Homo sapiens: one gene and its partner. Each later gene encodes a partner of the first gene's protein in a complex. Each region holds a gene or a part of one and is shown on either strand. Other genes may lie near its edges.

Region 1 (7,051 bases):
TGAGTATTTGGGATGTTAGACAAGGTACTATGCCTGTATCTCTGCTGAAGGCTCATGAAGCTGAAAGTAAGTATTGTGAAGATACAGAAAGTTTATATTGGGTGAGTTATATGACATATAATAAGCACCTTTCCATAATGATACATGTGGATCATTTTACATCATAGCTTTTAATGGCTGAATTGTGTAAATTTAAATAGTTATGTAATTTCTTTTTACTCGACATTTAAGTTCTTTAACATTTGTTTTTGTTTTTTTGGAGACGGAGATTCACCCTTGTTGCCCAGGCTGGAGTGCAATGGCGCTATCTTGGCCCACCGCAACCTCTGCCTCCTGGGTTCAAGCGATTCTCCTGCCTCAGCCTCCCGAGTAGCTGGGATTACAGGCATGCACCACCACACCTGGCTAATTTTATATTTTTAGTAGAGACTGGGTTTCTCCATGTTGGTCAGGCTGGTCTTGAACTCCTGACCTGAGGTGATCTGCCCAGCTCGGCCTCCTAAAGTGCTGGGATTACAGGCATGAGCCGCCGTGCCTGGTTTTTTTTTTTTTTTTTTTTTTAAAGAGACAGGGTCTGGTTCTGTCGCCCAGGCTGGAGTGCAGTGGTGCAGTCACGGCTCACTACAGCCTTGACTTCCAGGGCTCAGGTGATCCTCCCGCATCAGCCTCCCAAGTAGATAGGACTATAGGTGTGTGTCACCATGCCTAGCTGATTTTTTGTTGTTGTTTGTTTTTTTTTTTGTAGATATGGGGTTTCACTTTATTGCCCAGGCTGGTCTCAAACTCCTGGGCTCAAGTGATCCTCAGGAAGTGCTGAGATTACAGGTATGAGTTATGAGCCACCACATCAACCACAGGTTTAATTCTTATATCCAAAACTGTAGTTAGAATCCTTAGATATTTATCTCTGTGTGTGTTTTTTTTTTTTTTTTTTTTTTGGAGACAGGGTCTCTCTCTGTTGCCTAGGCCAGAGTGCAGTAGTGGTGTGATCATAGCTCATTGCAGCCTTGAACTCCTGGACTTACACGATTCTCCCAAAGTGCTGGGCATAGCCATTATGCCCATGCCCAGCCTTATGTACTTATTTTCTTAGGATAATTTTTTAGAAGTAGAATTGCTAGGCCAAACATTTTGCATAGCGCATTGACAGATTTTTCTACACAAAAATAATACCAGTTTAAGCCAGGCACATTGGCACATGCCTGTAGTTCCAGGCTCCTCCTACTCAGGAGCCTGAGGCAGGAAGATTGCTTGAGCCTGAGAGTTTGAGGCCAGCTTAGGCAACATAACCTCTTTAAAAAGTTAATAATACTAGTTTAATCCAGGTGAGTGGCATGCACCAGCTTCTCAGGAGGCCGAGGCAGGAGGATTGCTTGAGTCCAGGAATTCAAGGCTGTAGTGCATTATGATTGCACCTATGCACTCCAGCCTGGACAATATAGTGAGACCCCACTCCCTGAAAAGTGATAAAAATCATACCATTTTATATGCCATAGTGAAGTGTGCAAGAATGCCCTTTTCCCATGCAAATGCAGGCTGTCATATTTGTTAATAAATGTTGTGCTCCTCAATTTATTGTTGCATCACATCATTTTTTTTAACATGAACAATAGATTTATAAGCTTTTTTTTTTCTTTTGATTCTGGTGGAGATGATTTAGCCGGACAGAAATTTTTCATTTTCTCACTCTGTCTTTGATATCATGCCAGAATGGATTATCCTTTTTTTTTTTTTTTTTTGAGACAGAGTCTTGTTCTGTCGCCCAGGCTGGAGTGCAGTGGCACAATCGCGGTTCACTGAAACCTCTGCCTCCTGGGTTCAAGCCATTCTTCTGCCTCAGCCTCCCTAGTAGCTGGGACTAAAGGCATTTGCCACCATGCCTAGCTAATTTTTGTATTTTTAGTAGGAATGGGGTTTCACCATGTTGGCCAGGCTGGTCTCAAACTCCTGACCTCAGGTTATCTGCCTGCCTTGGCATCCCAAAGTGCTGGGATTACAGGTGTGAGCCACTGCGCCCGGCCCTATATATTTTTTTAAAAATGGGGTCTCTCTCACCCAGGTTGGAATGCAGTGGCATGATCACAGCCCACTGCAGCCTCAGCCTTGCCTCCCTGGCTCAATCAGTCCTCCCACCTCAGCCTCCCGAGTAGCTGAGGCTACAGGCACGCACCCCTACTACACCCGGCTAATTTTTTATTTTTTGTAGAGACAGGGTCTCAATATGTTGCCCAGGCTGGAGTGCAGTGGCATGGTACCTCACTTAAGCCTCAACCTCCTGGGGTCAAGTGATCCTCTTGCCTTGCCCTTCTGAGTAGCTGGGACTACAGGTATATGCCACTACACCTAGCTAATTTTTTTTATTATTAGATTTCTATAGAAATTATGATTCCATAAAAGATTTTGAGGAAATGATGGCCGGGGGCGGTGGCTTATGCTTGTAATCCCAGCACTTTGGGAGGCCGAGGCAGGTGGATCACCTGAGGTCAGGAGTTCGAGACCAGCCTGACCAACATGGAGAAAGCCCGTCGCTACTAAAAATACAAAATTAGCCGGGCGTGGTGGCACATGCCTGTAATCCCAGCTACTAGGGAGGCAGAGGCAGGACAGTCACTTGAACCTGGGAGGCAGAGGTTGTGGTGAGCCAAGATCGCACCATTGCACTCCAGCCTGGGCAACAAGAGTGAAACTCCGTCTCAAAAAAAAAACAAAACAAAACAGATTTTGAGGAAATGAGGAAGACTGGTATCTTTCAGAATTGAAAGTGATTTTGGAATATATAGAATTTCTTTGGGGCTGGGCACGGTAGTTCATGCCTGTAATTTTAGCACTTTGGGAGTCCAAGGCAAACAGATCTCTTGAGCCCAGTTGTTTGAGACCAGCCTGGGCAACATGGAGAAACCCCATGTCTGTTAAAAATACAAAAGTTAGCCAGGTATGGTGATACATACCTGTAGTCCTAGCTACTCAGGAGGCTGAGATAGGCGGATTGCTTAAGCCTTGGAGGTCAAGGCTGCAGTGAGCCATGACCATGCCATTCTGCACTCCAGCCTGGGCGCCAGAGCAAGACCCTGTTTCAAAAAGAGAGAGAGAATTTCTTTGAGTTGAATTATGTAGAAGTTTGTCACTGACCTATGTTCCTAAAGTATGAAGCATACATATGTGGGCTAAGAAATAGTTTTTCTTGATAAATAATCAACAAATAAAAAATAAAAAGCCCTCCATCTGAGACTGGATCCAAATTCTTGGAACATTTCCAAATTTTGGTTTGGTAGAAGTCAGTTGCTATTTCTGTGATAAAGACCAGAAGTATTCAGAATCTTGGCATTAACCAATATTGGATATTGCCTCTTAGAAATTCATTTTTATATTTCATTAGGATCTTTCTCAGTTTTTCCAATAATATAATCTTCATATATTAATGACACAGGAATTGAAAAATAAGACAACTTACCAATTTAAAAAAAAACTTTTCCGTAAAAGACAGTCATTCCTAGCTGGGCACACACCTATAATTCCAGCACTTTTGGGAGGCTGAGGCAGGAGGATTGCTTGACGCCAGGAGTAGAAGACCAAGGTAGACAACATAGCAAAACCCTGTCTCTATTTAAAAAAATAAAAATAAAATAAAATAAGCTTTTTCATAAAGTAATAGGGTTAAATGTTTTAGCAATGATTTTCTTTTCTTTTTTTTGAGACGTAGTTTTGCTCTTTTTGCCCAGGCTGGAGTGCAGTGATGCAATCTCAGCTCACTGCAACCTTGCCTCCCGGGTTCAAGCAATTCTCCTACCTCACCCTCCCAAGTAGCTGGGATTACAGGCACCTGCCACCACGCCGGGCTAATTTTTTGTATTTTTGGTAGAGATGGGGTTTCACCATGTTGGTTAGCTGGTCTTGAACTCCAGATCTCAGGTGATCCACTCACCTCGGCCTCCCAAAGTGGTAGGATTACAGGCATGAGCCACTGCGCCTGGACATTTTTTTTTTTCCTTGAGACAGAGTCTCACTCTTGTTGCCCAGACTGGAGTGCAATGGTGTGATGTTGGCTCATTGCAACCTCTGCCTCCCGGGTTCAAGCGATTCTCCTGCCTCAGCCTCCTGAGTAGCTGGGATTATAGGCACCCACCACCATGCCTGGCTAATTTTTAGTATTTTTAGTAGAGACGGAGTTTCACCACGTTGGCCAGGCTGGTCTTGAACTCCTGACCTCAAGTGATCCACCCACCTTGGCCTCCCAAAGTGTTAGGATTACAAGCATGAGCCACTGTGCCTGGCTACTATTTTCATTTATTTCCTTGCCCAGTACGCAAATTTAGTTGGCTTCTTTTTCCTTTCTTTTCTTTTTTTTTTTTTTTTCTCAGACAGTGTCTCACTTTGTCGCCCAGGCTGGAGTGCAGTGGTGCGAGCTCGGCTCACTGCAACCTCCGCCTCCCAGGTTCAAGTGATTTTCCTGTCTCAGCCTCCTAAGTAGCTGGGACTACAAGCACGCGCCACCACGCCTGGCTAACTTTTGTATTTTTAGTAGAGATGGTGTTTCACCATGTTGCCCAGGCTGGTCCTGACCTCAGGTGATCCACCCGCCTTAGCCTCCTAAAGTGTTCTTTTTCCTTTCTATGTGTTATAGCCATTGGAAAGTTACATTATGTCTTTTCTTTAATTCTGAAGCCTTTAATTTTTAGGACAGACTTGAGGCTCGAAGGTATGTGATGGAGGATAATGGAAGATGATGCCTAGAGATGGGGGTTTAATGTTGTTTGTTCAGCGAATCTGCACAGGAATGAGCTTATTGATTCTTGTCTCTTAGTGTGGGAAGTTCACTTTCACCCATCCAACCCAGAACATCTTTTTACCTGCTCTGAAGATGGATCCCTCTGGCACTGGGATGCTTCCACAGATGTACCTGAAAAGTCGTCACTCTTTCACCAAGGTAAAACTTTTTAATGAATACTGTTATGTGTACTTTTTTTTTTTTTTTTTAAGACAGAGTCTCACTCTATCACCCAGGCTGGAATGCAGTGGCACGATCTCAGCTCACTGCAACCTCCGCCTCCTGGGTTCAAGCGATTCTCGTGCCTCAGCCTCCCGAGTAGCCAGGACTACTAGTCATGCACCACCGTGCCCGGCTAATTTTTTTGTATTTTTAGTGGAGATGGGGTTTCACCATGTTGGCCAGGCTGGTCTCGAACTCCTGACCTCAAATGATCCGCCTGCCTCAGCCTCCCAAAGTGCTGAGATTACAGGAGTGAGCCACCACACCTGGCCTTTTTTTTGAGACAGAGTCTTACTCAGTCACCCAGAATGGAGTGTAGTGGTGCAGTCTCAGCTCACTGCAACCTCTGCCTCTCAGGTTCAAGCTTTTCTTGTGCCTTAGCTTCCCTAGTAGCTGGGATTACAGGTGTGTGCCACCACAACTGGCTAATTTTTTTGTATTTTTAGTAGAGATGGGGTTTTGCTATGTTGGCCAGGCTGGTCTCAAACTCCTGGCCTCAAGTGATCTGACCACCTCAGCCTCCCCAAAGTGCTGGGATTACAGGCATGAGCCACTGTGCCCAGCCTGTTATGTGTAATTTTATCATACTTTTATTTTGTTTTTTTTTTGTTTGAGACAGCGTCTCACTCTGACATGCAGGCTGGACTGCAGTGGCATGATCACAGCTCGCTACATCCTCGCCCTCCTGGGCTTAAGTGGTCCTCCTGCCCCAGCCTCCCAAATAGCTAAGACCAGAGATGCTTGCAACCACAACCAGCTAATTTTTTTTTTTTAATTTTTTTGTAGAGATGAGCTCTCACTATGCTGCCCAGGCTGCTCTCAAACTCCTGAGCTCAAGCAATCTTCCTGCCTGGGCCTCCCGAGGTATTGCAATTATAAGCATGAGCTGGCTGTACCCAGCCATTTTATACTTTTAAATACCAAATTAGACATCCTCGTATTTTTTACTTAATGGCAAAACATTTTTATTCTCTTGCCTCAGAGTAAATTTGAGTATCACAGGGCTTGAAATCTGACTGTCAAGTTACTTACTACTGTATGGCTGATGGCTAGAAATGCTGTAAGCTGGCTCACTTGAGACAGCCAAGGTTCTCCTTTGTGAGTGCCATTAACCTGGACCCTCATGCCATAGCATAGACAGTGGCAAATCTTTCATATTGCATTGCCAAGTTTGTGTGAATGGCAAGAAAAAAGTTGATATTTGATGTAACTGAGGGTACTGGTTAAATGGCCTGATCTCAGGCCGGGTGTGGTGGCTCATGCCTGTAATCCCAGCACTTTGGGAGGCCAAGGCAGGTGGATCACCTGAGTTTGGGAGTTCGAGACCAGCCTGACCAACATGGAGAAACCCCGTCTCTACTAAAAATACAAAATTAGCCGGGTGTGGTGGCTCATGCCTGTAATCCTAGCTATTCAGGAGGCTGAGGCAGGAGAATTGCTTTTACCCAGGAGACAGAGGTTTCAGCGAGCCGAGATTGCACCATTGCACTCCAGCCTGGATAGCAAAAGCGAAACTCCGTCTCAAAAAAAAAAAAAAAGGGCGTGCTTTCCTCATTACAGTCAGTTGTAGGTTATGGTCAGCCAAAGACCATGCACTTGTAATCGGGGTTTATGTGTTTTTGCATTTTCCAAGTTTCCTGTTTTTGAGGGTTTGTCTGTGGCTCCAAAGTTCTTTTGCTTATTCATTTATTCAGAAATATTTACTGAATGCCTACCATGTGGTAGGCATTCTTCTAGGTGTTAGGACGTGTAACAGTGAGCAGAACGAAATGTCGAAACGCATAGAGCAAATATTCTAATAGTTAAAAAAATAGATAATGTATCAGTAAGAGTCCAATTAGAATGTCAGAAACTACCTTAGATGTAGAAGGAATTGGTCTCACATGTGTTAGAAGGGCTGGGAAAACAAAAGGTAATAGGAGGGGTGCTGGGAGAACAAATAGGAAGAAAAGGGAAAACCCAGAAATAGTAATTGTTAGTACCCCTGCTACTTGACTGTTGAAAATGCTGTAAAAGTTTGTTCTGAATTAGGAGAAAAGGCGCTCCCTCAACCAGGCTGAAACT
Region 2 (2,563 bases), on another chromosome or scaffold:
TGAAATGACAAATTCTTGTAAGAGTCACTATTGATAGCCCTTTGGCTATCCTGATGCTTTTAGGAATCCTTGCCCCATCACAGAGATTCTTAAAGAGAACCATGTCAAAATTCCTTGCTCTTTGCTTTTTCCTTTGTTAGTTCAAAATCTTCTTATGAAGGGGTAAACAAAACAATTTATATCATTTGGTTATAATATTTAACTGTATTAAAAAATTGACTAGGAAATTGCTATAAAATTTTTCATCTGTACTTTAAAGCATGTAAAAGTTGAACCCAAACATCTACATGGTTATAAAATTTCACTGAATTCTTTCTTTTAATTACCTGGAACATTCTCCTATCTCTTAAAAATATAATGTTCTTGATTCTACAATTATTTTAAGACACCTTAAGAATAGAAAACTGGAGTAAAAAATATTTACTGGCATTAAACATAAATCTCTAAAACCTCAAAAATAAGACCTACTCATCTCTGAAATAAATAATTTCTATACATCTCTGAACCACGTGACAGACACATACTAGGTATTTTCATTCACCTTTATTTAATCTTTACAGCAACTCCACAAAATAATGATTCCTATCTGTACTTTACAAGAGGAAATGAAGCTTCAAAAAGGGCATTAACTTGCAGGAATGGGCAGTTTGTCAAAATGTATTGGATTCTGTATGTGACTGACAAGCAGAACCATAATTTTATATGCTTCTGACTGTACCATGATGTATCCCAAAAATGTGATACAGCTGTCTTAGATAACGTTGATTTTAATGATCTTTGAGAGGGTGAACACAGTTCCATTGCCAACAGGTCCCATCTCAAAAACACTTAAGTTTCTTGGTAAGAACAGTGAAAATTCACAAAAAGGAGGCTGTTAAAGGTATACACTAGAAGTCATTTTTCAAGGTAACTTTTGATCCCATATATCAGATGTTCTAAGACTGTTAGAACACCTCGTCCAAAGGAATCTGCGTATAATAAACAGGGTTGAGCAATATAATCAATCACATATTTAAGAAACTGAAAACAATTTTTTACATTAAATTGAGTACACATACACATATATATACTCAACAACCACTTCCAGAATACCCTAAGATATTTTTTTCTCCTTGGATTTTTTTTCTTTTGAGATAGTCTCGCTCTGTCGCCCAGGCTGCAGTGAAGTGGCACGATCTTGGCTCACTGTAACCTCTGCCTTCCAGGTTCAAGTGATTCTCCTGCCTCAGTCTTCCAAACCATGCTTGGCTAATTTTTTTTATTTTTATTTTTTTAGTAGAGATAGGGTTTCACCATGTTGGCCAGGTTGGTCTTGAACTCCTCACCTCAAGTGATCCACTCCCTTCAGCCTCCCAAAGTGTTGGGATTACAAGTGTGAGCCATTGTACCTGGCCTTTTTTTCTCTTTTGATAAATGTGTCCCTGAGAATTAGAAAAACAGCATATACTCAAAGTATAGAAAACAGGATACACTTCAAATACTCCTTTTTTGATAAACTCAAAAGCATTATTTTTCCTTAGTCATCTCTTCTCTGGAGGTGAGCTGCTGAGTCAATATGATTTTGTAAGATTAAAAATATATATATATACACACACAGAGAACAGAGTAGAAAAATAATTTTTCAAACCATCAACATTTTATTTAATAAAAGCAACTGAGACATTTTCTAAAGTATACGGTATATTTGATATAAAAATTCTTCAAAATATGTACTATAGAAATTCTTCAAAATATGTACTAAAAATACAAAGTTTGTGAATCTAAGGTACAGAAAACACTTTATACTTCAGTCACCCAAAACAACAGCTTGTGGTCTCCTCCAATTACACACAGAGGGAGAGTTCGATGCCAGGACAGTCCAGATCCAACGGCTACAGAACCCATGAGGATGGGCTATAAAATATGTGAAGAATTAAAGAAGCACAGTAAGTCCCCAAAATTAATAAATAAAAATGACTTTCAAAAATATGAAATGCATTGATGATTTATCTTTGTAGCATAAACAAAATTTAAAAATATGCTCCCTTACAGGTGAAATACACATTATTGATACGCAGCTGAAACATGGGATACAATCCATCTATGAATAACTGGTACAGTCCAGACTCCATTTTTGCAGTCTACACCAACCAAACAAGCAAAATTAATGTATTTAAATAAAGAAGAAAATATAAAAGCAACAGAATAAAAAGCTTCTTATATGAATACTGGCCAAAAAAACCTGTTGTCACTGGTAATGTAAACATCAAAAAAAAACCACACAAAAAACAAAAACAAATGAACCACCTTTTCTTGCAATTTAAGCAGATAACAAACGTAAATGTCTTCAGTCAACAAATTACAAATTTGGGGCTATGAGTGGAAAAGTCAAAAACACAAATTAAAAAAAAAAAAAGCACGTATGTTACAAAACATTTCCACATTACCTGAGGGTGTCCTAAATGATGAATTTGAAACTGGCTTGCCATTTTGCCAGGATAACCAGTGGTTGCAAACAGATTTTCACTAATTGTGGACCACCTAAGAAATAAGGAAGCGTAAAATTAAGTATCGTATCCTATGG

The links. Proteins that work in one complex are often made in the same cells at the same time.
Region 2: NUP43 (region 1) and NUP37 share a complex: the UniProt entries of both Homo sapiens proteins name them as parts of the nup107-160 subcomplex of the nuclear pore complex.

The regions. Positions count from the first base shown.
Region 1 is NC_000006.12:149,729,486-149,736,536, reverse strand, and holds part of NUP43 (nucleoporin Nup43), read left to right. Parts: coding exon 1-66; intron 67-4,801; coding exon 4,802-4,924; intron 4,925-5,773; coding exon of another isoform or gene 5,774-5,904; exon of another isoform or gene 5,905-7,018; coding exon of another isoform or gene 7,019-7,047; exon of another isoform or gene 7,048-7,051. UniProt on the Homo sapiens protein: Component of the Nup107-160 subcomplex of the nuclear pore complex (NPC). The Nup107-160 subcomplex is required for the assembly of a functional NPC.
Region 2 is NC_000012.12:102,072,575-102,075,137, forward strand, and holds the end of NUP37 (nucleoporin Nup37), read right to left. Parts: intron 2,521-2,563; coding exon 2,427-2,520; intron 1,894-2,426; coding exon 1,780-1,893; 3' UTR 529-1,779; downstream 1-528. UniProt on the Homo sapiens protein: Component of the Nup107-160 subcomplex of the nuclear pore complex (NPC). The Nup107-160 subcomplex is required for the assembly of a functional NPC.